Linked DNA regions of Homo sapiens: all the other regions are linked to region 2. Evidence: fine-mapped expression QTL. A gene starts in region 2. Each other region holds a variant in brackets. All regions are shown on one strand. Distances are between the middles of the regions.

Region 1 (6,379 bases), 140 kb before region 2:
GTTATGTTCACTTTGGAACAGATCATAATTGTCCCTCCTCCTCAACATACCCAAAATACGTTGTTTAAGGCTACTTTCTTAATGGTCATGTTATTTCACAGCAAAAGACTGGGGTCACAATGATATCTGAGCTGACAGAAAACCCCATGGGGGTTTTTACCTCGCAGCTAGTCTATTCAGTACTAACAATTCCAACCACCAGAAGGAATTTCCCTGCCTAGGCTTATTTTGTTGGCACAACACAAAAAAATCTCCTGGGGCCGAGTGAGGGGGTTTGTGCCTGTAATCCCAGCACTTTGGGGGTTGAGGCGGGCGGATCATCTGAGGTCGGGAGTTCCAGACCATCCTGACCAACATGGAGAAACACTGTCTCTACTAAAAATACAGAATTAGCCAGGAGTGGTGGCACATGCCTGTAATCCAGCTACCTGGGAGGCTGAGGCAGGAGAATCGCTTGAACCTGGGAGGCAGAGGTTGCGGTGAGCCGAGATCATGCCATTAGACTCCAGCCTGGGCAACAAGAGCGAAACTCTGTCTCAAAATAAAATATCTCCTGACATTTTATATCTAATAAGAAAAGATCTATTTAACAATGATCAGAATAGGAACATCTTTAATACCAGGCAAACTTAAAAGCTTTCTCAGTGGATTTCTCAGTAGACTGTGACAAATGACCTCAAAATAAACTCATATTTACTCTTAAGAAATAATTTGTATTTGAATCTTCTTAACAACAAAAGCCCCAGGAACTTTTTCCTGAACTCCCAAACAATAGCAGCAAAACGAGATTCTCGGCTCTCTTTATTTTTACAAATCACAATAAGATAACTAACCTTGTATTTGCTATTATTTACATTTACTGTATATCACCATTTACTATCACCATCATTTCATAAAAGATGCTTTATTTTAACACCAAGAAAGCAGGACTTTTTTTTTTTTTTTTTAGAAAGGATAGTCCTTTAATCGAACAAATTTAATTGTATAAAAGACTCCCAATATTGTCCTTTTTTTTTCTTATTTCTGTTCCCTTACTGAGCTGAGCAGTTTGCATAATACCACACACAAGTTAGTCATGTGATTTAAATATGTATATGATAGTAATTTTGATACTATCACTTAAGTCATTCGAAATATCAGATGCACTGTGTGTCAAGTCAGTTATAGAGAACCACTGCTTCAGAGAAATCACATCTGAGGAGGAAACACTGCAGATACACCCCCTAAAAGTTCACCTTTGAAACAGAAATTTTGATACAAACTTCACTTTAACTACAACTGTAATTGTAATTATTACAGTTATTCTCCACTCACTAGATACTGTACTTGACACTCACGTTATTTGGTTGGCTACCAACGTGCACCTGTGATAAAGCTTTCCTATGGCACAACATTCACTTTCTTACTGAAAATGTCAAGAAAACCCCTACACACCTGCAACCATTAGGAAGCATTCTCCAGCTATCAAAAAAGTCACTGAATCGGCTAAGCGACTCTGTGTGGTATACACTAAATCAAAGGGGAAAAGGTGTTTTTTTGGAGGAAAAAAATACTGGATCAGCCATTTATTCATAGAAACAATTTTACCCACAACAATACTTCTCCTTTCACTATATACCCTTCTATATTGGTTTGGTTATTGTATAACATACATGTATATTGTTATGGCTGGGGATTTTTTTTTCTTTTTTGAGACGGAGTCTCATTCTGTCGCCCAGGCTGGAGTGCAGTGGCAAGACCTCAGTTCACTGCACCCTCCGCCTCCTAAGTGATTCTCCTGCCTTGGCCTCCCGAGCCTCTGGGATCACAAGCGTGTGCCACCATGCCTGGCTAATTTTTATATTTTTTGTAGAGACCGGGTTTCACCATGTTGTTATTGAACTCCTGACCTCAGGTGATCTGCCCTTCTCGGCCTCCCAAACTACTGAGATTACAGGCGGGAGCCACTGAGCTCGACCTTGTTATGTCTGGTTTTTGTTTTGTTTTTTTGAGATGGAGTCTTGCTCTGTCACCCAGGATGGAGTACAGTGGCACGATCTTGGCTCACTGCAACCTCTGCCTCCCGGGTTCAAGCAATTCTCCTGCCTCACCCACCTCAGTAGCTGGGATTACAGGCACGCGCCAATATGCCCAGCTAATTTTTGTATTTTTAGTAGAGACAGGATTTTACCATGTCGGTCAGGCTGGTCTCAAACTCCTGACTTCAGGTGATCCACCCACCCTGGCCTCCCAAAGTGCCAGGATTACAGGCATGAGCCACCGCGCCCAGCCTAGTTTTTAATTACTAAGAAAAAATTACTATAGTCCTTTTGGTATCACCTACATTGCCAAAGCTGCAGTCCCCCTCCACTCCCGGAAGCCACCAGAAATGACTGCTGTTGTCTGCAAAGCCCACAACTCTGATTTCATCTCAAGATATGTCCTACTGGGTGACTGCAAATGTCATTCTTTAAAGGCTTGTATCTGTTACAAGCTTGGGAAATATTATCAATGGCTTAAGAGGCTCTTTTGACAAAAGAAAACACTGTTCCCTGTAACCCCAGCTAGTCAGGAGGCTGAGGCAGGAGAATCGCTTGAACCCAGGGGGCGGAGGTTGCAGTGAGACGAGATCATGGCCCTGCACTCCAGCCTGGGCGACAGAGTGAGACTCGTCTCAAAAAAAAAAAAAAAAAAAGGAAGAATGTGCCCAACCTTCATGTCATGAAGGCCATGCAGTCTTTCAAGTCCCGAGGCTACTACATGAAGGAACAGTTTGCCTGGAGTCATGTCTGCTGGTACCTTACCAATGAGGATATCCAGTATCTCCGTGATTACCTTCATCTGCCCCTGGAGATTGTGCCTGCCACCCTACGCCGCAGCCGTCCATGGACTGGCAGGCCTCAGTCTAAAGGTCTGGAGGGTGAGCGACCTGCAAGACTCAACGAGAGGGGAAGCCGACAGAGATACCTACAGAGGGAATGCTATGCCCCCTGGTGCCAACAAGAAAGCCGAGGCTGCGGCTGGGTCAGCAACCGAATTCCAGTTTAGAGGCAGATTTGGTCGTGGACGCCGTCAGCCACCTCAGTAAAATTGGAGAAGATTATTTTGCATTGAATAAACTTACAGCCAAAAAGACTTAAAAAAAAAGAAAAAAATTATATTATGTCGCAAATGAACCCGTTGCAATGATCATACAGGTTTTTTCCTTTGATAGTTTGTACTACTTTAATAGTTTTTTCTTTTATTACATCATCTTAGTTTCCTAGGAAAACCCCAACTTGGTCATGATACATGTTTAATCCATTGCTGGATTATTTGCTAATATTTTATTTAGCATTTTTGCATATATGTCCATAAGAAGTTAGTCTATACTTTTGCCTGCTTGTACTATTTATGTCTGGTTTGGTTTTAAGCTTATATTAAATTCACAATGAGTTGGGGAGAATTCCATTTGCTTCTTTTTCTGTAAGGTTATGTAGGCCGGGGTCGTGTGTGGTGGCTTATGTCTGTAATCCCAGCACTTTGGGAGGCCAAGGCGGGCGAATCACGAGGACAGGGGTCGAGACCACCCTGGCTAACACGGTGAAACCCCGTCTCTACTGAAAATACAAAAAATTAGCCAGGTGTGGTGGCGGGCGCCTGTAGTCTCAGCTACTCGGGAGGCTGAGGCAGCAGAATGGCCTGAACTCGGGAGGCGGAGCTTGCAGTGAGCCGAGATCGCGCCACTGCACTCCAGCCTGGACGACAGAGCGAGACTCCGTCTCAAAAAAAAAAAAAAAAATTATGTAGGCCGCGCACTGTGGGTCGTGCTTGTAATCCTAGCACATTGGGAGGCCGAGGCAGGTGGATTACCTGAGGTCAGGTGTCCGAGAACACCCTGGCTAACATGGTGAAACCCCGTCTCTACTAAAAATACAAAAGATTAGCCAGGCACACCTGTAATCCTAGCTACTGTGGAGGCTGAGGGAGGAGAACCGCTTGAACCTGGGAGGCGGAGTTTGCGGTGAGCAGAGATCATGCCACTGCACTCCAGTCTGGG[C/G]TACAGAGCGAGACTTCCTCTCAAAAATAAATAAATAAATAAATTATTTTAAAAAAATTCTGTAGAAGATAAAGACTTTCTGTTCTTCTTAATGTTTGCTGAACTTATCTATAAAATCATCTGGGCCAGGTGCTTTTCTTTGGTTTTGTTTTTTGTGAGATTTTTGACTGGATGGGATACAGATTTTAAAATAAACATTCAATTCCTTTAATGGTTCTAGATCTAGACAAGGTTTTCTGTTTCTTCCTACTTCGTTTTTATGAAGTTATATTTTTCTTTTGAGCCGGAGTTTCTCTGTTGTCCAGGCTAGACTGCAGTCACCCCATCTTGGCTCACTGCAACCTCCGCCTCCCAGGTTCAAGTGATTCTCCCGCCTCAGGCTCCCGAGTAGCTGGGACTACAGGCAAACGTCAAAACGCCCGGCTAATTTTTGTATTTTTAGTAGAGATGGAGTTTTGCCATATTGGTCAGGCTGGTCTCGAACTCCTGACCTCAGGTGATCGACCTGTCTTAGCCTCCCAAAGTGCTAGGATTACAGGTGTACATTTATTTATTTGAGATGGAATCTTGCTCTGTATTTATTAATTTATTTATTTGAGATGGAGTCTTGCTCCATCGCCCAGGCTAGAGTGCAGTGGTGTAATCTTGGCTCACTGCACCCTCTGCCTTCCAGGTTCAAGCGATTCTCCTGCCTCAGTGTCCCAAGTAGCTGGGATTACAGGTGCCTGCCACCACAGCTGGCTAATTTTTGTATTTTTAGTAGAGACAGTGTTTCACCATCTTGGCCAGGCTCGTCTCGGGCTCCTGACCTCATGAACCACCTGCCTCAGCCTCCCAAAGTGTTGGGATTACAGGCCTAAGGCACATGCTCGGCCGTATTTATTTATTTAATTATTTAGAGACAAAGTCTTGCTCTGTCACCCAGGCTGGAGTGCAGTGGCGCCATCTCAGCTCACTGCAGCCTCCGCCTCCGAGGTTTAAGCGATTCTCATGCCTCAGCCTCCTGAGTAACTGGGACTACAGGTACTCACCACCACGCAGGGATATTTTTTTCTGTTTTTTTGTAGAGACACGGTTTCACCATGTTGGCCAGGCTGGTCTCGAACTCCTGACCTTAGGTGATCTGACAGCCTCGTCCTCTCAAAGTACTGGGATTACAGGCATGAGCCACTGCGCCCGGCCTCTCACTACGTTTAAGTGATGCCATGGCTCATGCCTGTAATCCTAGCACTTTGGGAGGCCAAGGCAGGTGGATCACCTGAGGTCAGGAGTTCGACACGAGCCTGGCCAACATGAGGAAACCCCGTCTCTAGTAAAAATACAAAAATTAGTCAGGCGTGGTGGTACAAGCCTGTAGGCCCAGCTACTTGGAAGGCTGAGGCAGGAGAATCACTTTAACCGGGAGGCAGAGGTTGCAGTGAGCCAATATCATTCCACTGCACTCCAGCTTGGGTGACAGAGTGAGACACCGTCTCAAAAAAAAAAGAAAAAAAGAAAGAAAAAAATGTGATGCCGGGGCATCTCAGCCTCAATACCTGCATGAGCACAGTCATGTCCAGGCCAGGGCTGCTGGTCGAGGTCTGGCCCCATCTCTTCTAGAAGAAAGGGAGTAAGCTTGCAGGGAGGCTGGGGGACAAGATCCCAGGATCTCAGCCTCCGCTCATGGATCAGCTCTGAGACCCTGACTGAGCTGGGGGTGCTCTGTGTGCACTGGTTTCCCCAGCTGTCAAGTAAAGGGATTGGATGAGGAAGTCTTGTCAAGGTGGAATGATCTCAGATTTGGGGCAGCAGTGAATGATCCCGCTCCCTGGGCCCATGCCAGTGGCCTGGCCTCGGCTGAACACAGCCCCAACACTCTGGAATGGGGATGAGGGGGAAGTCAGCTCTTGCTCTTAGTAAGAGAGATGCAATAGGGCTCTGTGGCTGAGCTGGGTGCCTTGCCTCACACCTGTAATCCCAACCTTTGAGAGGCTGAGGCGGGAGGATTGCTTGAGGCTGGGAATTTTGAGAATAGCCTGGACAACATAGCCAGACCCCATGTCTACAAAATAATAAGAAAACACACAGCTATAGTCCAAGCTACTTGGCAGGCTGAGGCAGGAAGGTCCCTTGTGTCCGGGAATTGGAGGCTGCATTGAGCTATAATCGCACCACTGCACTCCAGCTTGGGTGACAAAGTGAGACCCTGTCTCTAAAAGAAAAAAATATCGGCCTGTGAGCATGGGTTTGATCTTCAAACAGGACCCGGAGGGTAGGGACAGACAGTGCTGTCACCCTTAGGTGCTGAACACTCAGAAACGGGCCAGCGGCAGTCCTTTCCTCACCTGCAGACACCAGATTGGGCAGAACAGCACGTGGCAC
Region 2 (5,949 bases):
TGCGTCTCCATGGAAGGCGCCCTCGCCATCGTTGGGCCAGATCTGCCCGGTCTTGCGGACGCCCACGATGGTGGCCTCGGACACGACAACCGGGCAGTGCCGGTGCCGCTTATGGCACTGCGGCGTGGGGGGACTGCTGCTGTCGAAGGACTGTTGCGAGTTCTGCGAGGGAGAGCGGCTTTTGTCCCGGAACATGCGGTAGGTGGTGGGGCTTGGGGACACGCGGCTGGACTGGCCAGAGGAGAAGTCCTCCTCGCTGGAGGTGAGGTTCTCATTGGAGCTGCAGTCCGGGGTATAGCCGCCTCCGCAATCCTCAAAACTCCGGGGGGAGTAGGACCTGCGGGGCCAGGTAAGGCGCTTCTCCTGCTCAGAGGTGCTCTGGCTGCGCAGGAGCGGGCCCTTGCCCTCCCCTTCCATCATGCCCCCGACGTAGATGCTCTGGTAGGGCTGGTACTCCAGGGGCGGCCAAGGGGGCCTGCTACCGCCATTGGCGTCGATCAGGTTGTCCTTCAGGAAGCGGGGGTTCAACTCGGCGTCCTCGTAGTCGCCGTCGACGCCGCAGCTGCTCTCCGAGGAGCGTCCCCGGTAAGGGGGCCTGGATGCATCCCCCACGCTCGAGCCCGCGCCGTGCTGGGACTTTTTGCGCTCCATCTGCATGGCCTGGCTGCCCAGGGAGCTGATGCGGTCCGACACCTCTTTGTCGTTGACCTTCACCAGGCCGCGCTCGTGGTGAAACTCGACGTTCACGTAGAAGGGCTTCTCGGCGTCCGCCCCGGGCTGGCCATGGCCCTTGCGGATCCGCTCGAAGTTGGACCTGAGCGCCGCCACGCTGGCGGGGGGTCCCCGGTCGTCCCGTTCCCCCGACGCGGCTGCCCCGGGCCTGCGGGCGGTCCCGGGCCTGGCCTTACCCGGAGAACCCTCGCCGTCGGGCCGGGCCTCGGGCTCCTCGGCGGGCGGCGGGTCGGCTCCGTCGGCGGGCGCTGGCTGCGGGCGCGACGCGGACGCTCGGGGCTCGGAGGCGCCGTCGGGGGCCTGCGCCGCGCGCCGGAAGCCCCATCGCTGCCGGTCATAGCTCTTCTTTTCCTTGGCCAGCAACGTCTGCAGGTAGATCATGCGGAAGCGCTCCTGGTTCACCTCCTGCTCCAGGCGCCGAATGGAGGCCTTGCAGCGCTCCAGCTCCTGCTCGATGTCGCCCACTGAGCGCAGCTCCATGCGCGGGGGCTCTGAGTCCGGGAACTGCGCCTTCCACGCCTCCGCGAAGCCCACCGGGTCCACCATGGCGCGGCCGGCCTTACCTGCGCCGCCGGGCTGCGCGCGGGGCCCGTCTCAGCGGCGGCGCGGCGCCTCGCCAGCCCGGCCCCGGGCGCCGGGCGGCCCCCATGGCCCGCGCGGCGGCGGCGGCGGCGAACAATGCCCGCCCACTCCCTGGTGGCAGGTGAGGCGGAGCGGGGCGCTCGGCGCGCGGGGCGGGGCGCGCCGGGGGGAAGGGCGCGGGCTGCGCGCGCCGCTATTGTGTGCGGGGCTCCTCCGCACGGCGAGGCGCGGGCGCTGCTCTCCGCTCCGCCAGGCCGCCGCCAGACTCTGGCCACGGCCCGCGCGCTCCTCGCCTCTCGCTTCCGCACCGCCCCACAGCCCCGCCGCCGCCGTGCCGCCGCCGCCGCCGCCGCCTCCTCGGACGCTAAGCTCAGCCAGCCGGCTCTCGCCGCACTCCCGCCCGGCCCGCACTCTGCGCCGCAGGAAGGGGAGGGCCGGGGGGAGGTGGCCGCGGCGCGGATGACGGAGCCAGGCGGGCCTCTTAAAGGGGCCGCGCCGTGGGCACAGGGCGGGGGGGCCCCCTGGAGGCGGCTCCCCCATCGAGCCGCCACCCTCCCCCCGTCCCTGTGCCTTTTGGGAAACTGAGGCCCTAACAACAGCGAATTGGACTGTGCAACTCGCAGCCCAGGGGTCCCCCGTAAAAAAGACACCGGACTCCCTGGTCCATAAAGACCTTTCCAATACAGAGGTCTGGGCCAGTTCTGCAGTCCTGGAACAGGAACACTTGGCTCCCCTCCGGCCAGGAGGACTTCTCCGGCCAGTCCAGCCGCGTGTCCCCAAGCCCCACCACCTACCTCATGTTCCGGGACAAGAGCTGCTCTCTCTGGCAGAACTCGCAGCAGTCCTCCGACAGAAGCAACCTCCCCCCTCTGCCCCTACCACGCCGCAGTGCCATAAGCGTCACCGGCACTGCCCAGTCGTCGTGTCAGAGGCCACCATCGTGGGCATCTGCAAGACCAGGCAGATCTGGCCCAACGATGCGGAGGGCACCTTCCATGGAGACGCAGGTAAGTTCCTCACACCTCACAGCCTGGCCTCTCACCAGCCTCAGGGCTGGGCACACTAGGGACCACCCAGCAGGGCCCAACTCACAGAGAGGCCAGGACCAGGCAGGTCACCCCGCAAGGCAGGGAGGGCCAGGCTGAGTAACCAATGCCAGCACCCTTGTTTCAGCGGGCCTCTCACGTTGTGGATCTGCTGTGGGTGGCTGCCACACGGGTTTGTCACAGCAGGACCACATGATGGATGATAAATAGGGATTTCTCCCTCAGGTCACTCAATACCCACACCTGCCTTCCTGTGTGCTGAGCCATGTGTTTGTCCCCTGGCCTCTCTTGAGCTCCAGAGGTCAATGTAGTTTTTCCAGGACGACCTGACTCAGAACTTCCCTGATTAGCCTCCCTCTAAGGGGGCGGCCAACCTGCACTGAGGTTCACAGGGCTGGGTGGAAGACAGCCCAGAGCAGGGAGTGAAACAAAACCTTTGATGGTTCTCTGGGGACACAGAGATCTGAGACACAGTGGAGAGCACTCTGCAGGGACTCTGATGGGCACAAACTGAAAATACCCAAACCAGCCCGCTGGGTTGGGGGAAAAGGAAACAGGATTTGGCAAATGAATTACTGGGCTTGAGTCCTGACCACCTCTCCCTCTCTGCCTCAGTTTCCTTGAAGTGAGAAGCACATCTGCCTCCAAGTGCTGTTGTCCCTGTGTGGATGTTAGGGATTATCATGCCCTCCTCCCAATGCCAGCGTCATCTGGAGCAGATACTTTGAAGTCCAATCTAAAGGACTGAGCCCAGGCTAGTAGCCAGGCCAGCCCTGCTTGGGTTCAGGGCTTCCTGCCGACTCCTGGCTGTGTGACCTCAGCAGTGTCTCTCTCAGCCTCTCTGAGCCTCAGTTTTGTCATCTGTTCTTCATGTGCCCAATCCTGCTTCCTTTTCCCCTGACCCGGCAGGCTGGTTTGGGTATTTTAATTTTGTGCTCATCAGACTCCCTGCTCTTTGCCCTGTCTCAGATTTCCAGGCTTCCCTAGAGAACCATCAAAGATTTTGTTTCACTCCCTGCTCTGAGCTGTCCTGTCTTCCACCCAGTCCTGTGGGCCACGGTACAAAATGTTGAGAGCATCCTGCATAAAATGCCCAGATGGGGCAAACATAAAACACAACCTGATAAATGGTGTGTAGGGGTCGATTTCGTGATTGCCTGTTAATATTAGTGCCCCTGGAGAACATTCCTGCCCTGGAAAACCCATGGGCCCCAGTTTCTAGGCTGGGTGGGCGGTGCGCAGCTCACTGCTGCCCTCTGCAGGCCTTGCTAACCTCCTGCCATCCTGGTCCCTTGGACCCAGCGGACCTTCTCATCCCCTTCCCATCAGGCTGCAAATAGCCCATTTTGCATGTGAGGAAACTGAGATGCAAATGATGCCCTGGCCACTAAAGGGGCTGGAATCCCAGTAGTGCCATACTGAGCAGTGCTCTCATCCTCAGTGGCCTATTTTTTTTTTTTTTTGAGACGGAGTCTCACACTGTTGCCCAGGCTGGAGTGCAGTGGAGTGATCTCTGCTCACCGCAACCTCTGCCTCCTGGGTTCAAGTGATTCTGCTGCCTCAGCCTCCCAAGTAGCTGGAATTACAGGCGCCTGCCATCACGCCCAGCTAGTTTTTTGTATTTTTAGTAGAGACGGGGTTTCACTGTGTTGGCCAGGCTGGTCTTGAACTCCTGACCTCGTGATCTGCCCGCCTTGGCCTCCTGTAGTGCTGGAATTACAGGTGTGAGCCACTGCACCCAGCCCTCAATGGCCTCTTCTTTAAAATGGGTATGATAAAGGCAGGCACAGTGGCCCATGCCTGTAATCCTGGTGTTTTGGGAGGCCGAGGCAGGAGTATCGCTTGAGCCCAGGAGTTCAAGACCAGCCTGGGCAACATAGTGAGACTCCATCTCTACAAAAAAATTTAAAAATTAGCCTGGCATGGTGCCTCGTGCCTGTAGTTCTACCTGCTCAGGAGGCTGGGGTGGGAGGATTGCACTGAGCCTGGGAATTTGAGGCTTCAGTGAGCTAGGATCACGCCACTGCACTCCAGCCTGGGTAACAGAGCAAGACCCTGTCTCTAAGTAAACTCTGAAGCTGTTTAGTTTGAGTTTGCATGCTCTGTTCTCTTGGCATAGCAAATGGCTTTTTGTTAGGCACAAGGACACGTCCAGATAGTGGCTTTCTCCCTTGTGGGACAGCCTCTTCTGGCCCCAAGGACACTGTTCTCTCCTCAGGACTTCCCTGAAAGCACCCCTATCCTGAGCCTCTGGGCCTTTCCTGTAGAGTTTTCTTATCATCCATCCCTCCCTAGGGAGGAATGCAGCAGGGCATGGGCATGGGCATGGGGTTTAGACACACATAACACTCTGTAATCCCCCACTCAGTGTCTGTTCCAACTAGATCTAAACTCTGCAAGGTCACAGACCTGTTTGTCTTGTTCCCCTATGTCTCTCATATAGTGAGCTCAGAGTAAGTGCTCAACCAGGTCTGGTGGAATGAGGAACCAGATGTGTGCATGGCCTGGAGGGCAGATAGGTCACCGAGAGCGATGCCTGTGTATGGGGGAGGAAGTGATAAGGCATTCACAGCCCGGCTATAGCAAAGGTGTGTGTGTCCTGTGGGAGAAGGCACAGTTCGGGGAAAGGCTTGCCAGGGGAGGTGATGCCTGAGCTGGTCCTAAGGACAAGGACCAGGTAGGCAAAGGACAAGGAGGCTTCAAAGTTCTGTTTGAGGAGCAGCCAGGTTGGGAGATGAGGCTGGTGTAGGCAGTAGGAAGTGGGATCAGAGGTGAGGCAGGGCCTTGTAGGCCTGCACAAAGTTTGGGTTTTATTCTAAATGCAAGGAAAAGCTGCTCAAAGGTTCTAGACCTGCACTGTCCGATAGAACTTGCCAGTACCATGGGCATGTTCTGTAATCTGTGCTGCACAATGTGGCAGCCACGAGCTGCCCCGTGTGATTACTGAGCATCTGAAACGTGGCTGGGGCAGCTGAAGAACTGAATGTTTGGTTTCGTGTTAGTGAGTTTCAATGGCCACCGTGGCTGCTGTACTCAACCGCACAGGAAGCGGGGTGACTTGCTGGGGTCTGTTGCATGGAAGGTTGGGCGTGGGAGGTGGGAGTAGGGGGAGTGGTTGGGGATTGTGGCAATTGTTTATGAGGAAGGCATTGGTGACCCAGAATAGGGCAGAAGCAAGGTACCCCAGAGAAGGGGTTAGAATTCAGGAGCATTCTGGAAGTAAAACTCATGGGACTTGTAGATGGAGTGGGTGTGGGGAATGAGGGATGTTGGGGTGATCAGACCCAACACCAGGCCGTGGGGGCGACAAAGTCTGGCGGAGTCAAAGGAGTGAGAAAAGGCAAGAGAGAAAGTGGGACCAGGGGGCCAACGCTAGTATAGAGGCTGCAAAGGCCTCTAGCCCTAGGAGCCTATGCTATTTATTGGTGATCAAACAAAGAAACAGGTGGTGAGGATGTGGGGATTGAAAGGAAGCGGTGTATCAAGCAAATGAGCTACAGCTGTGACAGTTTAGCATTTTCTTTGAAACATATGGCTACTTGAGATAATGAGAGTGCTAGAAGGAAGGAGCCAGCAAGTCTAGCAGACA
Region 3 (4,663 bases), 140 kb before region 2:
CCAGGGTGCATGCCCATCTCCAGCCCAGGGCAGCTCCCCTGTAAGCTGGGTGAGCTACTGAAGCCAAGGCGGGAGGCAGCTGACAACACCCACGGCCCATGCGGAGGTGGTGGAAAGGCTGGACTCAGCAGCAACACCAAATCCCGGACCAGGCAGAAACCACCCAAGACTGAGGGGCTCGTGCCAGAGCGGTGGCCACAGGTAAGAACCCGGGCCCAGGGTGGCAGGAATCCTCCATGTCCCAGGGCTTAGCATAGCAAAGGAAGACCAGCCGGGTCACCCTGGTGGCCATCTGTCCCTGTCCCACCTGCAGAGTCAGAACAGCCTCTCCCCAGTGGGGATCATCTCTCTCTGCCAAAGCAACAGCGGTCCCTGCCCCAACCAGACTACCCCACTCAGTGGGGTTACGGATGCTGCTCCAGCATCCTAACACTGCCCAGCTGGTGCCTGCCTGTGCTCACCCACACCCCCCAGGCCGGCCTTCCCTGCAGCCTGGGCTTGGCCACCTTGGCCTGATTGAGCACTGAGGCCTCCTGGGCACCCAGCCCTATCACTGCACCTGCTGCTTCCAGCCCCACCCCACCGGCTCAGGGGTTCTTCCCAGCGGCGCTGATCATGAAGTCAACATGCACGCAAGTCGTCTCAGGAAACTTTTTAATGAAAGTGTCGGCCACGGTGGTGTGTAGGTGGCTGAGCTCAGATTGCAGCTGCTAAGACACCAGCCACTTACCAAGAGAAAGCCAGGCTGCTTCAAACCCAGGGCCCAAGGCAAAAAAGCATCACTTCCGGCCGGGGAGTCTGGAAGCCACGCCTTGTGGGAGGTCACACTGGCATCTAGGCCTTCGCCTGCATTGCAGAAGGAGAGCCAGGTCCCCCTCCTGGAGAACGCTGCGTTCCCCAGCCCCACACCGGCTTTGCCACCACACAGGCTGTTGAGGCAGGAGGTGGGTAAGACGTAGCTGTAGACCCAAAGCAACCACCAGCCCTGGGACCCTGCGGGAGAGGAGCACTTTTAGAACATGGAAAAGTGTGGTCATCCCATCATTAGACAGCACACATCCTACATAAATAAAAAGTCGTATGGGGAAGGAGGTTGGGGAGGGAATAAAAAATTGGCACAGACATTGATAGACTGGTTTCCAGTTTCAAGGTAACAGATGCACATCATGAGACCAGAGGAGGCAGAGACAAGGCTGGATTTGGCTTTTCTAAGCAACACGTGTTCCTGCGCAGGGCTGAATGGTCGCTGAGACAGAGATGGAAGCCAGGACAAGGGAGCCCACCGGGCCCAGATAGGTACAGAGAGCAGAGGCTCCTGTTCTGTCCTCGCCACCCACGACGGTGACACTGCTTGTAAATGGTGGCTGTGCTCTCCCAGCAAGAAAAAAGCACAACTAAATCCACACTGCACACAGACGCAGACAGAAAGCCTTCAAGTGGCTGTTTTCTGCTCCCTGCCTTGCCAGGTCCACAAGCAGAGAGGAGTGTCAGGCGCATGGCCCCACTGTCAGGCTCCCTAGTGAGCTGCGGGTTCAGCAGGAGCTGCCCACTGACACACAGGGGACACCCACTCCTCCCACCTTGGGAGCGGGTGCCAGACAGAGCCGCACTGGGTGCTGGTGTCATCCAGGGACCCCACACACTTCCTTAAATGTGATCCTGCTTCCCTCTGGGCAGCTGCATCCTCTCCTCCTGCAGGACCGTGTGGAAACTTGGCTCTCAGTTTGCTCTCCCTTCTCTCCTCTGCCTGCCCCAAGCCCCTCTTTCTAAAAAAGTGATGGAATATTCATGGGGTTATTTCTTGAAAATACTTGGCGGTCTCCATGCTTCTGTTTTCTTTGAGCCAGGTGGTCAGGAGGGTTTACAAAGAATGCCTGGGCTCCCCCGCAGGTGTCGGCAGATGGGGTAGCGAATGGTCCTGTGCCTCCACCTGCTCCGGGAGGGAGTCTCCCGTCTCTAGGCCTGGCCCCTTCCTAACCCTCCACGTATCCTGTTCTCCAGAGACTTCAGAACCCACTCCTGAGAACAGCGGAGCCAGGCGCTTAGAGGAAGACCAAATGCTGCCAGGACACGGATTGTCCAGGGATTACATTCCAGCATCTTATTAGGTATCTGGATCTGTTCGGAAAAAAATTAGAAACTATGTATAAAACTTACAAATATTCAAGTATCAAAAGGTTATTTAGGATGAAAGTTTTAAAACAAGTCATCAGCAAGCTGCTGCCACCAAGTGGAGACTTATACAAAAGTTGAGCGAGTCCACTGAGCTGAGAGGACAGAAATGAAGTCACCTGTGCTGGGGCAGGGGCAGGGACACTGGGGGCAGGGAGTGTGTGGGCAGAGAAGCCAGAGAAGTCCAGGCCTGTGGAAGCCAAACAGGAGAGCGTGGGCCGGAAGGGCGGTCAGGATCGGGGGACGAGGTCGCTCTCCCTGGAGAACGAACCCTAAAGTGCGTAGCCTGGGGTTCCCTCCCTGGGGGTCCTGTCCCCTGACATTTCACAGGCCTTCTGAGCTGCCTTCCAAGGAGGACTAACATGGCAACAAAAGACCCATTTCTGCACAAAAATCCTTCTGGAAAGAAAAAGAAAGCCAAGAATGGAGTCAAAACGCTACCCAGTGCTGACTAAGCCTCTCAAACCCTGTTAGAAGTGGAGTGTGGTTTCTAAGTCAGGGAAATGGAAGAGGCCCCACCCACACAGGGACAGGGCCACGGCCCCCACAGGATGAAGCAGCAGCGTTTATTCAAGATACAACAGTGAGGGAATCCAGTCACGTTCCCTTCTCCCCAGAGAGGGCGCATCTTGACAAGTGATCCAGTAGAAATCTTTTAGACTCTAAGTTAAGTTCATAAAAACCACTCCCTTCACCCTGTCTCCCAGGG[C/T]CAGGCCTGGACTCCGAGATGAACTGGCTTGGGGCGCCCTCAGGTGGCCACATAAAAAACCACAGTCTGAGGCCAGCCTGGGGCTCCCAGACCTGGGCGGGATCTTTCCAGGCCACCTGTCCTTCGGCTTTGGGTCGCTGTCTCTTGGCAGATGGCCCAACACTTGGGGGTGGCCCAAGGACACCTCAGGAAGGTTCCCGCTCTACGGATGGCCCGATTAGCCAGAGGTTTCCAGGCCATCTGTCCGCCTCCAGGAGATGGACTGGGACCTTTAGACTTCGGTGGAGAACAGGATGCTCTGTCTCTTGCTGTCCGGGGCAGGGATGGCCTCCAGCTGCAGGAAGTACAGCAGCACCTGGACCTGCCCGGGCAGAGTAGGGAAGAGAAGAGTGGCTCAGAGCGGGGCTCACAGCTGCTGGTGGGAGGTCTTTGGGGCCCAAGCCTCCAAGTCCATCTCAGGTGCTGGGGACCCCTGCTGGTGTCATGAACCCCTTACAGTGAGATGGGGGTGGGGTGGGGTCCTGACAAGGCATGACTTGTTGGGTGGGGGGTGGTTATTTATTTTAGAGATGCACAGGGCCTTGCTCTGTCCCCCAGGCTGGAGTACAGTGGCTCCATCATGGATCACTGCAGCCTCTAACTCCTGGGCTCAAGAAATCCTCCTGTGTCAGCCTCCCAGATACCTAGGATTACAGATGTGTGCCACAATGCCTGGCTAATTTTTCTTTTTATTTTTTCTAGAGATGGGGTTTGCCACATTGCCCAGACTGGTTTCAAACACCTGGGATTGGTTATCCTGCCTTGGCCTCCCAAAGTGCTGGGATTACAGGCATGAGCCACCACACCCGAACACTTGAGGTAGTTTTAAGCTTCCAGCAAAGTGCACTAGCAGGACCAGGAGGTGGCCTGGGCCCCCACTATCACTCCCATCCATGCAGACCTAGGCAAGTCCCTCTCTGTGAATGTTGGCCACACCACATACAATGCAAGTAAGAAGATGGGCAGGACTGGGGGTGGGGCAGGCAGAGGCCACCTCTGTCAGGTCAGGGTTGCATGGGCTGGAGCCTGTCTTCCCATACCTGGGACATGACCTCCAAGGACCAGCTGTCAGTCATGGTGATAGGCTGGCTGGGGTTGGCAGGGAGCTTGCTCTCCTTCTCGGAGGGCCGGAGCAGCGTGGGGCCAAAGACCGTGGCGAGGTTGTGCAGGGACATCTTATTGACTGCCTCCTTCTCTGCCACCCTGTAGAGGACCAAAGCAGCGGGTGCTGTTTCAACGCCACCCCCAGGAGAGAGGCAGAGGGGCTGGGCTGTGCTGGAGTTCTCAGGAAGGGAGTGACCTCGACCCTGGCTGTGCTGCAAGCTGACTCCAGCCCTGGTACTTCTGGGTCTCAGTGGCCCAGGACAAGGAGCCAGCTCTGGGCTGGTGGGGAGGTCTCCTACTTGATGTGACTCGGAGGGAAGAGGGGGGTCCAAGTGCACTGCTGGCCACGGCCAAAGCTCTGAGCTCTTTTTTAAGGCCACAGTGCAGAGAGAGGAGGGTGGCAAAGAAGAGAGGCTGGGGCAGGGGTGGCAGTGGCACTAGTCGCCAAAGGCAGTGAGTGACTGCAGACAAGGGTCAGGAGAAAAGGTCCTCGGTGTTGGGGGTCTAGTGGGAGCAGAGGGGCACTCTGCGGCCTGGGGACCTGGAGCCCTGGGCTGCCATGGGAGAGCTGGGCTACCTTTTCAGGTGGTCCAGAAGGAAAAGGAAGGTGAGCAGGTTGGCCTCCGGCAGGGACAGCAG
Region 4 (4,000 bases), 120 kb before region 2:
GCCCAGCAATCTTACTAGGTGTTTACTCAGTGAATGAAAACATACGTCCATATAGAGACTGGTACCAAGGACATGTTCGTGGCTGCATCAACCTTAACAGCCCAAACTAGAAATGATCCAAGTGTCTGTCAAATAGTAAATGCAGAAATAAAAACATGTTATATGTATGCAATGGAAAATTATTATCATAAAAAGGAACCAAACAATGCTACCACATGAATAAACCTCAAAAACATAATGGTAAGTGGAGGAAATCAGTCAAAAAAGCCCACTCTAGTATGATTCCACGTTTATGAAATGTGAAGAATGGGCAAATCTCTAAAGACAAAAAGCAGATCGGCTTGGGTCTGGGAGTGGCTATAACTGGGAACAGGGGCTGGGCACGGTGGTTCACACCTGTAATCTCAGCACTTTGGGAGGCCAAGGCAGGAGGATCACTTGAGCCTAGGAATTTGAGACCAGCTTGGGCAGCAAAACAAGACCTTGTCTCAAAAAAAAAAAAAAAAAAAAAAAATAGCCTGGCATGGTGGCGCATGCCTGTGGTCCCAGCTACTTGAGAGGCTAAGGTAGGAAGAGCACTTGAGCCTGGGACATCAAGGTTGTGCTGAGTGTGGTTGCACCACTGTACTCCAACCTGGGCAACAGAGCAAGACCCTGTCTTAAAAAAAAAAAAAAAAAAAAAGGCAACAAGGAAATTGGGGTGATAGAAATATTCTAAAACTGGATTGTTGGTAAAAGTTGTACAGCTCTGTAAATTTACTATAAAATCATTCGGTTATAAAAATGGATGCATTTCATGGTACAAAAGTTAAAAATAAAGGGTCCAAAAGTGGCTCTCAATAGAGCAAGGAGGACCTGTATCACTATCCATGTTGATGGCGGTGTGCTTCAAGAAGAATCCCGTGGAATCTGTGTAAGAATTTGCTCATGTGATCTTACATTTTCATGATGTTTACATCTTCATATCTTCCCCAAATATTGGTTCAAAACAAACATCACTCATTTTGTGTTCCTGCTGCAAGAGACCCCCTGGGGCCTGCCCCTCTCCAAGTCTGTTTAAGAGGCTACATACATAAGTTTCTCTCCTATTGGTGCCTCTGCCACATGGACCATGCATGTCTCATTCATCTCGGAATGCCCCCCAGGCACATCAGAGACCCCCCTGAATGGGTGAATGGCTGTGTGGACAAGACCTACGTGGCCCTCAGATAATCCTTGAAATACAAATGAGGATTCTTGGTGCCTTCATGACGGTATCCGCCTTACCTGACCATACCTCCTCCGACTCCCATCACGTCCCCTGTGACGTGATCTTTATTTTGGCTTATGTTTGTCTCTGCTGCTGGAAAGTAAACGTGGAGGACAGGGCTTTGTCCAGTTCATTCTCTGTGGTATCTCCAGTACCCAGACAGAGACATAAAACATACCTCTATAAGTTATGTAATAATACATTGTTTAATGGATCTAGAGTTTATATATATATAGTAAAATACATATTGGCACAAAGCAAGTACTGTTACATGCACTAGAAATTGCTGAGCCAGGCACTTGCCCTCTCACAGGTGAATTAAATTGGGGTGGGGGGGGCCATGCAGCCTTGACGGTTGAGTGACTTATGCTCTCACGGGTGGGGGGTCAGCGTTTGCTGCTGTTCTCATCCTTATCTGTCGTTTGTGAGGAGGCGATGGAGCAGGCACTATCTGGCTCCAGCCCCTGGTCCCTGTGTCAGTGGGAGTGATGGGTGGGAACCATGGCTAGACAGGAAGGAATCTGATTGCTGTGTGAAGGGCATTCATGACTCACGCCAAGTAGGTGGCGGCTGCCCTGGTCCCTGGAGGTCCAGGCTCCCAGCTGGGGGGCTTGTTTGTGGGATCCCAGGAGGAAGTAAGTCGGAGGAGTGGTGGTGACTATGCCATTGGCGCTCTGCGACACCAGCCTGGCCTCTTTCTCCCCCGTGGACACTGTTTTCTGCACAGGGATACCTGAGAGAGGATGTGCATGACTCCGGAGCCCAGCCTTTTTGAATCTGGGCTTTTCCCAGTGACACCAGGAGCCTTCTGTGCTGTACCGTGTGGGAGGCGCTTGGCTCTCTGCAGCCAGCTACAGGGGCCTACAGCCCCCACACTGCTTATGCACCTCGACTCAGAAGTTGCGTAGAGAGACCCTCCC[G/A]TGAGGTGAGGCAGTTGCAGCAGGTAGAGAAGCCGCAGCATCCCGGGAGTGTCCAGATCCAACCATGAGGGCAGAGGTCCCTGGCAGGCCCCAAGGGCAGGGGTCTGGGATGGAAAGGAGTCCTCAGCAAAGCTGCTCATGTGCCTGTCTGTGGGCAGCAGGAGTCGGGATCTTCTGGGCTGGGGGCTTGGCCCGGTCTGGTTTTTTGCTCCCCTTAATGGTGCTGATGAGCTGGGTTTAGGAACCACTTGCCCGAGTCTCAGATTTTGGCTCCTGCTCTTCAAATGCCTGTCCTGGATGACTTGCCAGGTCCCCACCTCCCTTCTTGCACGATAGAGGCTCCATGAGGGTGGGGGTGGCGGTGGGGGGGCTCTAGAAATTGGGATGGGTGACCTGCTTTGTTCAGAGCCACAAGCCAGAAAGGCAAGGGGATACACAGTACAGCAGGGACAAAGCTGTGGTGGTGCCCACAGTCCAGAAAAGAGCCACTGACAGCACAAATTGAAGTCCTTGTGTGTGGGCAGGTGCAAGAGGACCCAAGTCGGGTGTCCCTTCCAAGCCAGCCCCGAGCCTGAATGAGCCATTTGAGTGAGCGAGGCCATCCTGGTCCATCCTCAGACACCAGGAACCCGCTGTGCCACCCTAGTCATGGAAGGCTTCCTGTGTGCCATGCCTGGCGGGGGGGTCCCCAAGAACAAGAAGACCCCTCTCCCCAGCCTTCATGGTCTAGATCAGAGAAGCTGGAAAGGAAGGATGTGGCAAATGTGCCAAGAGCCAGGGCAGGCTTTGGCCCAGATTGACTGGTGGCTCAGATGGCACGGTTACTTGGGAAGTGAGGTCACGGGACAGAGAAGCCTTCACAGAGCAGGGGACATTGAATCTGTATCTTCAGGGAGGGATTTTTCAAGGTGAAGGCATCAACATCCATCCAAGATTCATGGGACGGGGTATGGGACACATTGCTGGAGGGCTAGTCTGCAGCCTAGCCGAGTGCAGCGCAACAGGGACGGGGGCCCTGAGACACAGTCCCAGTGCTCCTGCACATCCTGGGCCAGAGAGGGAGTCACCACAGTTGGCAGAGCTGGGGAAATTGGAGCCTTGCTGCCATTAGGAATTTCTTCAGGTTTTTTCTGTCTTTTTTGAGATAGTCTCGCTCTGTCCCCCAGGCTGGAGTGCAGTGGCACGACCCTGGCTCACTGAAATCCCTGCCTCCCTGGTTCAAGCAATTCTCCTACCTTGGCTTCCCGAGTAGCTGGGACTACAGGCATGCGCCATCGCGCCTGGCTAATTTTTTTGTGTTTTTAGTAGAGACGGGGTTTCACCATGTTGGTCAGGCCGGTCTTGAACTCCTGATGTCAAATGATCCGCCCTCCTCAGCCTCACAAAGTGCTAGGATGACAGGTGCATCTCTCTTCATCTGCAAATTTTCTAGGTTGCTAAATCATGTTAGCCCTGTCTATTCTCCTTAGAGGGCAACATTCTATCAAGTCATAGACTTTTGTCTTCTCCCATTTCTCCTGCTCTATTTATGTGTCTTGCTGGGCTCACAACTCATGTTCCAGTGGGGGCATCAGAGTTCATTTTTGTTGTTGCCAATGTTTTATGTGAGCCTCGGGGATGAGATTTGGACTGTGAGCCTCTGCTTCATTTGAAGCTGGTGCTCTGGCTGGCTGGCTGGAGTTTCCCAGACTTCTCTGCCAGCCTGGGTTATGTGGGCACCTGACCAGGTACAAGCCAGCAGGTCTGACTGGGGCCCTCCTGGTGGCACCCTGGCAGCTGCTCTCAAGTCCCCACCACGCAGTGAGGTCCACCCATTTTCGGGCGGTCTCCC
Region 5 (4,000 bases), 100 kb after region 2:
GCTTTGCCTCTGGGGAAGCCTGATTAGCTGCTCCATAGCCAAGGTCAGACAGGACCACCGGGCCCCACAAACACAGAGCCTGGTACTTTACATGCCTCAGCCCTCCTTAGTCACCTTGCCCCCTCCTCCCTTGCTGACCCCACTCCTGCAACACCTGGAGCTGAAACCACACGGTTTAGCACCTTGTTTCCGTGGCCATCCAGCCTCCCAATTCCAAGAAGGCTTCTAGGGGCTCCTTGCTGGAACAGAGATCAACATCAGGTGTACATCCAAGAGGAGGCTCCCGGCCTTGTAGAGTGGTTGAGTCTCTACCACTCATTCACTTATTCATTCTTCAGTGTACAGAAAGAGGCTGCCATGAACGAAGCATGGGGTTGGACCCTGAGGTCACTACAGGGAGTGAGGCATCAAATGAGAGAAGAGACAGTCAGCAAGCAATGACCTGAGCTGCTCATGGGACTCAGGAAGACGGAGGCCAGTCCTTCCCAATAAGGGGTTAGCATCAGTGTCACTAAGGAAGGGGCATGTAAGGAGAGATAGGGTGGGTTAAAGCTGCTAGATAGGAGGGGGTACAGTGGTGAGGTTCACCAGTCACTGGCAAGCTCATCTAAATCCTGCCTCCCGTGCCCGCTGCAGACATCACTAATCGACCATGACTCTTTCCCTCTGGGCTGCAGCACAGCCTTAGAATCCTCTTCAGCACAGCATGCTTTGGACGGTCACTCCAGAGTTGAGATAAGGAAGGAAACTATCTGTACACTTGACCCAGCCCAGAGCTTCCAACTCAAAGGCAAGGAAGGCCCAGAGAGTGGAAAGCATTCGCAGGGTCACCATCACAGGCAGAGCTGGACTTCTACCCAGGCCTGGTGCCTTCCCCTGCCCTGAGCTCCTCTACTGGCCTGAGAGGCCACTCCTTGATCTTGGGGCACAGGGGCCACCTGGAAAGGCCACTCTACCATCATCATGTTCCTTTACTACCTTCAGGGTCTTGGCTCATCCCCTTAGGACAGTTTTCCATAGACATGCCTCTGAAGGTCATCACTCTGTGAATCCCCGTGTCTGACAAAGGCCCCACTGAGTCACATTGCATCACTGAGTGGCCCGGCGTCAGCCCGAGGCATCTGTCCACCTGCCTCTGGCTTGAGAGTAACCCACAGTTGGGCCTGACGGGGCCCAGCTGGTAGCATCCACCTGAGGGTGGTTTGTGTTTGGTGGCCAAACCTGAGGCCCAGAGACACATCTCTGGGGACCCAAAGGTACAACCTCTTAGGAGCAGAGGGTTGAGCTGGAGCAGGGGTTCTGCAGCGCACGAGCACACAGCTCAGCCCTAGGGCAAAAGGGGCTGGACAGGGCCACTGAGGCATGACTGTCTGCGAATATTCAGTCCCTCCACAGCGACTCCCTGGGTGGCGATTCTCAATGGTGACTCCGCAACGTCCCTGCCCTCATGGAGCTTACACAAACACATACGATGAATGAATCAAATAGGGAGCAGGTCACGCTGTGGCGAGTGCTAAGGGGAAAAAAATAGCAGCAGGAAAGGGCATAGGAAACATGGTCAGGAACATGGCGCTGTTCTACATAGAGGCCCCACCAGCCCTGTCTGGAGCAGGGCCACAGCCTAAGAGCCAGCCCTCACTGCCATGCCAGCCTCCAGCACAGCCTCCTCCTCAGCCACCCTTCCTATGACCAACCAGGGTGAGAGGGACCATGCTGCCCAGATGCGGGGCTGCCCAGACCTACTAAGGCACTGGGCACATGAGGTCCACTCTCCACACCTCAGAGGACCTTGGCCTCCATGACTCACAGGGGCAGACCTCACAAAGGAGCAGACCTCACAGGGGCAGACCTCACAAAGGACCTTGGCCTCCGTGACTCACAGGGGCAGACCTCACAAAGGGACCTCTGTCCTGGCAGCTCTCCATCCCAGGGGCCAAGGGTCTCCTGAAAGGTTTGCTCTAACCACAACCACGGTCCCCCATGGCCATGAGAGGCCTGGCTGAGCCCTCGGGGACGGGGTGTGTTTCTGGTTGGAGGCTGCTAGAAGGAACACCCCCGGGCTTGACACTATGTGTAAGGCCCCTCCCTGCACTGTGGCTTTTAACAGTCTCGCTTCTTAGCACTTTTTGATGGATTCTCCAGGGACGTCTCTAAAAGAGAGTTATACCTTAATTTAGAAGCAAATAACTCAAAACTCTGTGATGTGGCAGCTTCCTTTGGAAAAGAGATGAACGCAAAGAAGCCA[T/C]TGCTGTGTGAAGCTGTGGCCATGTAGGTCCAGGGCCTGCTGATGGGACCATCTAAACCTCAACCTCAAGATGTGCCTCCTGCTGCCTCTTGCCCAAGGGTCCACAGACCAAGGGGCAAGAAGCAAGACATTTAGTGAAGAATTGCAGCAGGCAATTGCCTGCTGCAGTTTTCACTTTGGGTTCCCTGGGCCATGGTGCCAAGGTGAAGCTCACAGGCTGGGTGTGACTGACTCCAGCGGCCCTGAAAGTCCAACGCAACCCACCCGCCCACTCAGGGAAGGGAGGAGAAATGCTGTGGGGACTGGGCAGCAGGCAGGTTGCGGGCCCACCCTCCAGGCCTTCCTTCTCCACAGGGGCCACTACATCCCCAATATTATCCTTGAGGTCCCTGTGACCAGCCAGCTTCCTGGGCACTCACTTGGGCATCCATACAGTTTTAATGCTCTGCTGTTGCTGTTCTGGAATGCATAATTTTAGTTTTACTTTTGTAGAGACAGGCTCTTACATGTTGCTCAGGCTGGTCTCAAACTCCTGACTTCAAGTGATCCTCCTACCTCAGTCTCCCATAGTATAGGATTACAGGTGTGCGCCATCATGTCAGGCCCTTAATAATTTTCAAATGGGGGCCCCCAAAATCATGTGGCCAGCTGTGCCTGCATTGCTCAGTCCCTGGGCATGCCCTGCCTGCTTGACACAGGGGACCTGCTCTCTGGGACCCGCTCTTCTCCAGCCTCCCGAGGCGCCACTGTGACTGTGCTTCCACCTCACTTGCCCGTCAATCCTCAATCTCTCTTTCTCGATGCTTCTCAACTCATCCTCCCCACAGTGGAGGCCCAGGAGCCCAGCTCAGCCTCTTCTGATCCTACCTACCCTTGATCCCTAAGTGACCTCACGTGGTCCCCGGCCTGCCACACACCTCAGTGCCAGGGGCTCCAGGTTGCCACCTCCAGCCTTGCTCTCCCTCTGGCCACATGTGCCCATCAATGGCTCTCCAGGTCTCAGACCCACCTCCTAATTCCCCACCTCTCCAGAATGGGTTTTTCTGTATCTTGCTTCTCAGCCAATACCAGCTCCATCTTTCTACTGGTTCAGACCAAAACTGCAGCTGTCCTTTAAAAGCTGCAGCTTTAAAAAAACAAATCTCCCACCTGCATTTCTCAGGGCCTCCAGAGCTCCCACCCCTGGGTCAGCAGCCTCTCTGCCTGGGATGTTGCAGTAGCCCCTCATGGCCCCCAGCCTTACCCCACCCTAGCCTATTTTCCCACCTCAGCAGAGAGATCTTTTCAAAGTGTAGATTAGCTCCTCCTGGGAGGGCAGCTCCAGTCTCTTCTCTGCTCCAACCCTGCCAAGGTCTTCCTGCCTCATTGGGGCCCACTGAGTCCTGCAGGACCTGGCCCTGACACCCCACCCACACTCCTGCACCAGGTTCCAGCCACTCTGGTGGGGCCTCCAGGGGCCAGGGAGTGTCTGCTCAGCGCCTTTGCACCTGCTGTCTCTCCCCTGCTCAGCCACACCACTCACCCAGCACTTCTGCATGGCACTGTGTCAGTCCCCCACCCCCATCTCGTGTCCCCCACCTTCTGCTTTAGTGTTCTCCACAGTGCAGCACTTAGTAACATGTGTTACTGTCAACCCCTGCCCGTCTGGTGTGAGCACTGTGAGTGGATGCTACGTCCCTGCTGTACCCCTGCACCTGGCACAGTGCCTGGCATGCAGCAGGCGCTGGTAAATGTTAGCTGAACAAATGAATGGAT

Direction of the effects. Alleles are on the strand shown, and positions count from the first base shown. SD is a standard deviation of normalised expression in the study named. Not every link is listed here.
For the expression in unexposed skin of the gene that starts at base 1,730 in region 2, allele T in region 3 goes with a lower level than allele C (moderate effect, 0.40 SD a copy in GTEx).

What was found.
Region 1: its variant is fine-mapped to the expression of BCR in putamen (GTEx, PIP 0.99). The same link has a PIP of 0.9 or more in caudate and cerebellum.
Region 3: its variant is fine-mapped to the expression of BCR in unexposed skin (GTEx, PIP 0.97).
Region 4: its variant is fine-mapped to the expression of BCR in whole blood (INTERVAL, PIP above 0.99).
Region 5: its variant is fine-mapped to the expression of BCR in adrenal gland (GTEx, PIP 0.93).

Annotation. Positions count from the first base shown.
Region 1 is chr22:23,319,225-23,325,603 of GRCh38, reverse strand. It overlaps the pseudogene RPS10P30. Among named protein-coding and RNA genes, the nearest start is that of LINC02556, 4.2 kb to the left of the region's middle. The variant C/G (reference allele first, on the strand shown) is at 4,019.
Region 2 is chr22:23,176,290-23,182,238 of GRCh38, reverse strand. It overlaps BCR (BCR activator of RhoGEF and GTPase), which reads right to left and starts at 1,730. Exons shown (of 23, transcript NM_004327.4): 1 at 1-1,730. The coding sequence starts at 1,278. It also overlaps a transcript of RSPH14 not described here and the pseudogene BCRP8. RefSeq lists silencers at 1,200-1,279, 1,300-1,569, 1,640-1,879, 5,284-5,383 and enhancers at 2,000-2,810, 5,771-5,870.
Region 3 is chr22:23,314,012-23,318,674 of GRCh38, reverse strand. BCR (BCR activator of RhoGEF and GTPase) reads right to left here. Exons shown (of 23, transcript NM_004327.4): 21 at 4,602-4,663; 22 at 3,961-4,123; 23 at 638-3,242. The coding sequence ends at 3,153. It also overlaps the pseudogene POM121L11P. Among named protein-coding and RNA genes, the nearest start is that of LINC02556, 10 kb to the left of the region's middle. RefSeq lists a silencer at 2,889-3,008 and enhancers at 2,759-3,053, 4,190-4,663. The variant C/T (reference allele first, on the strand shown) is at 2,882.
Region 4 is chr22:23,300,614-23,304,613 of GRCh38, reverse strand. All of the region lies in intron 16 of BCR (BCR activator of RhoGEF and GTPase), which reads right to left. Among named protein-coding and RNA genes, the nearest start is that of LINC02556, 24 kb to the left of the region's middle. The variant G/A (reference allele first, on the strand shown) is at 2,170.
Region 5 is chr22:23,073,737-23,077,736 of GRCh38, reverse strand. The region is part of intron 4 of RSPH14 (radial spoke head 14 homolog); the gene reads left to right. All of the region lies in intron 1 of GNAZ (G protein subunit alpha z), which reads right to left. Among named protein-coding and RNA genes, the nearest start is that of GNAZ, 5.2 kb to the right of the region's middle. RefSeq lists an enhancer at 1-387. The variant T/C (reference allele first, on the strand shown) is at 2,246.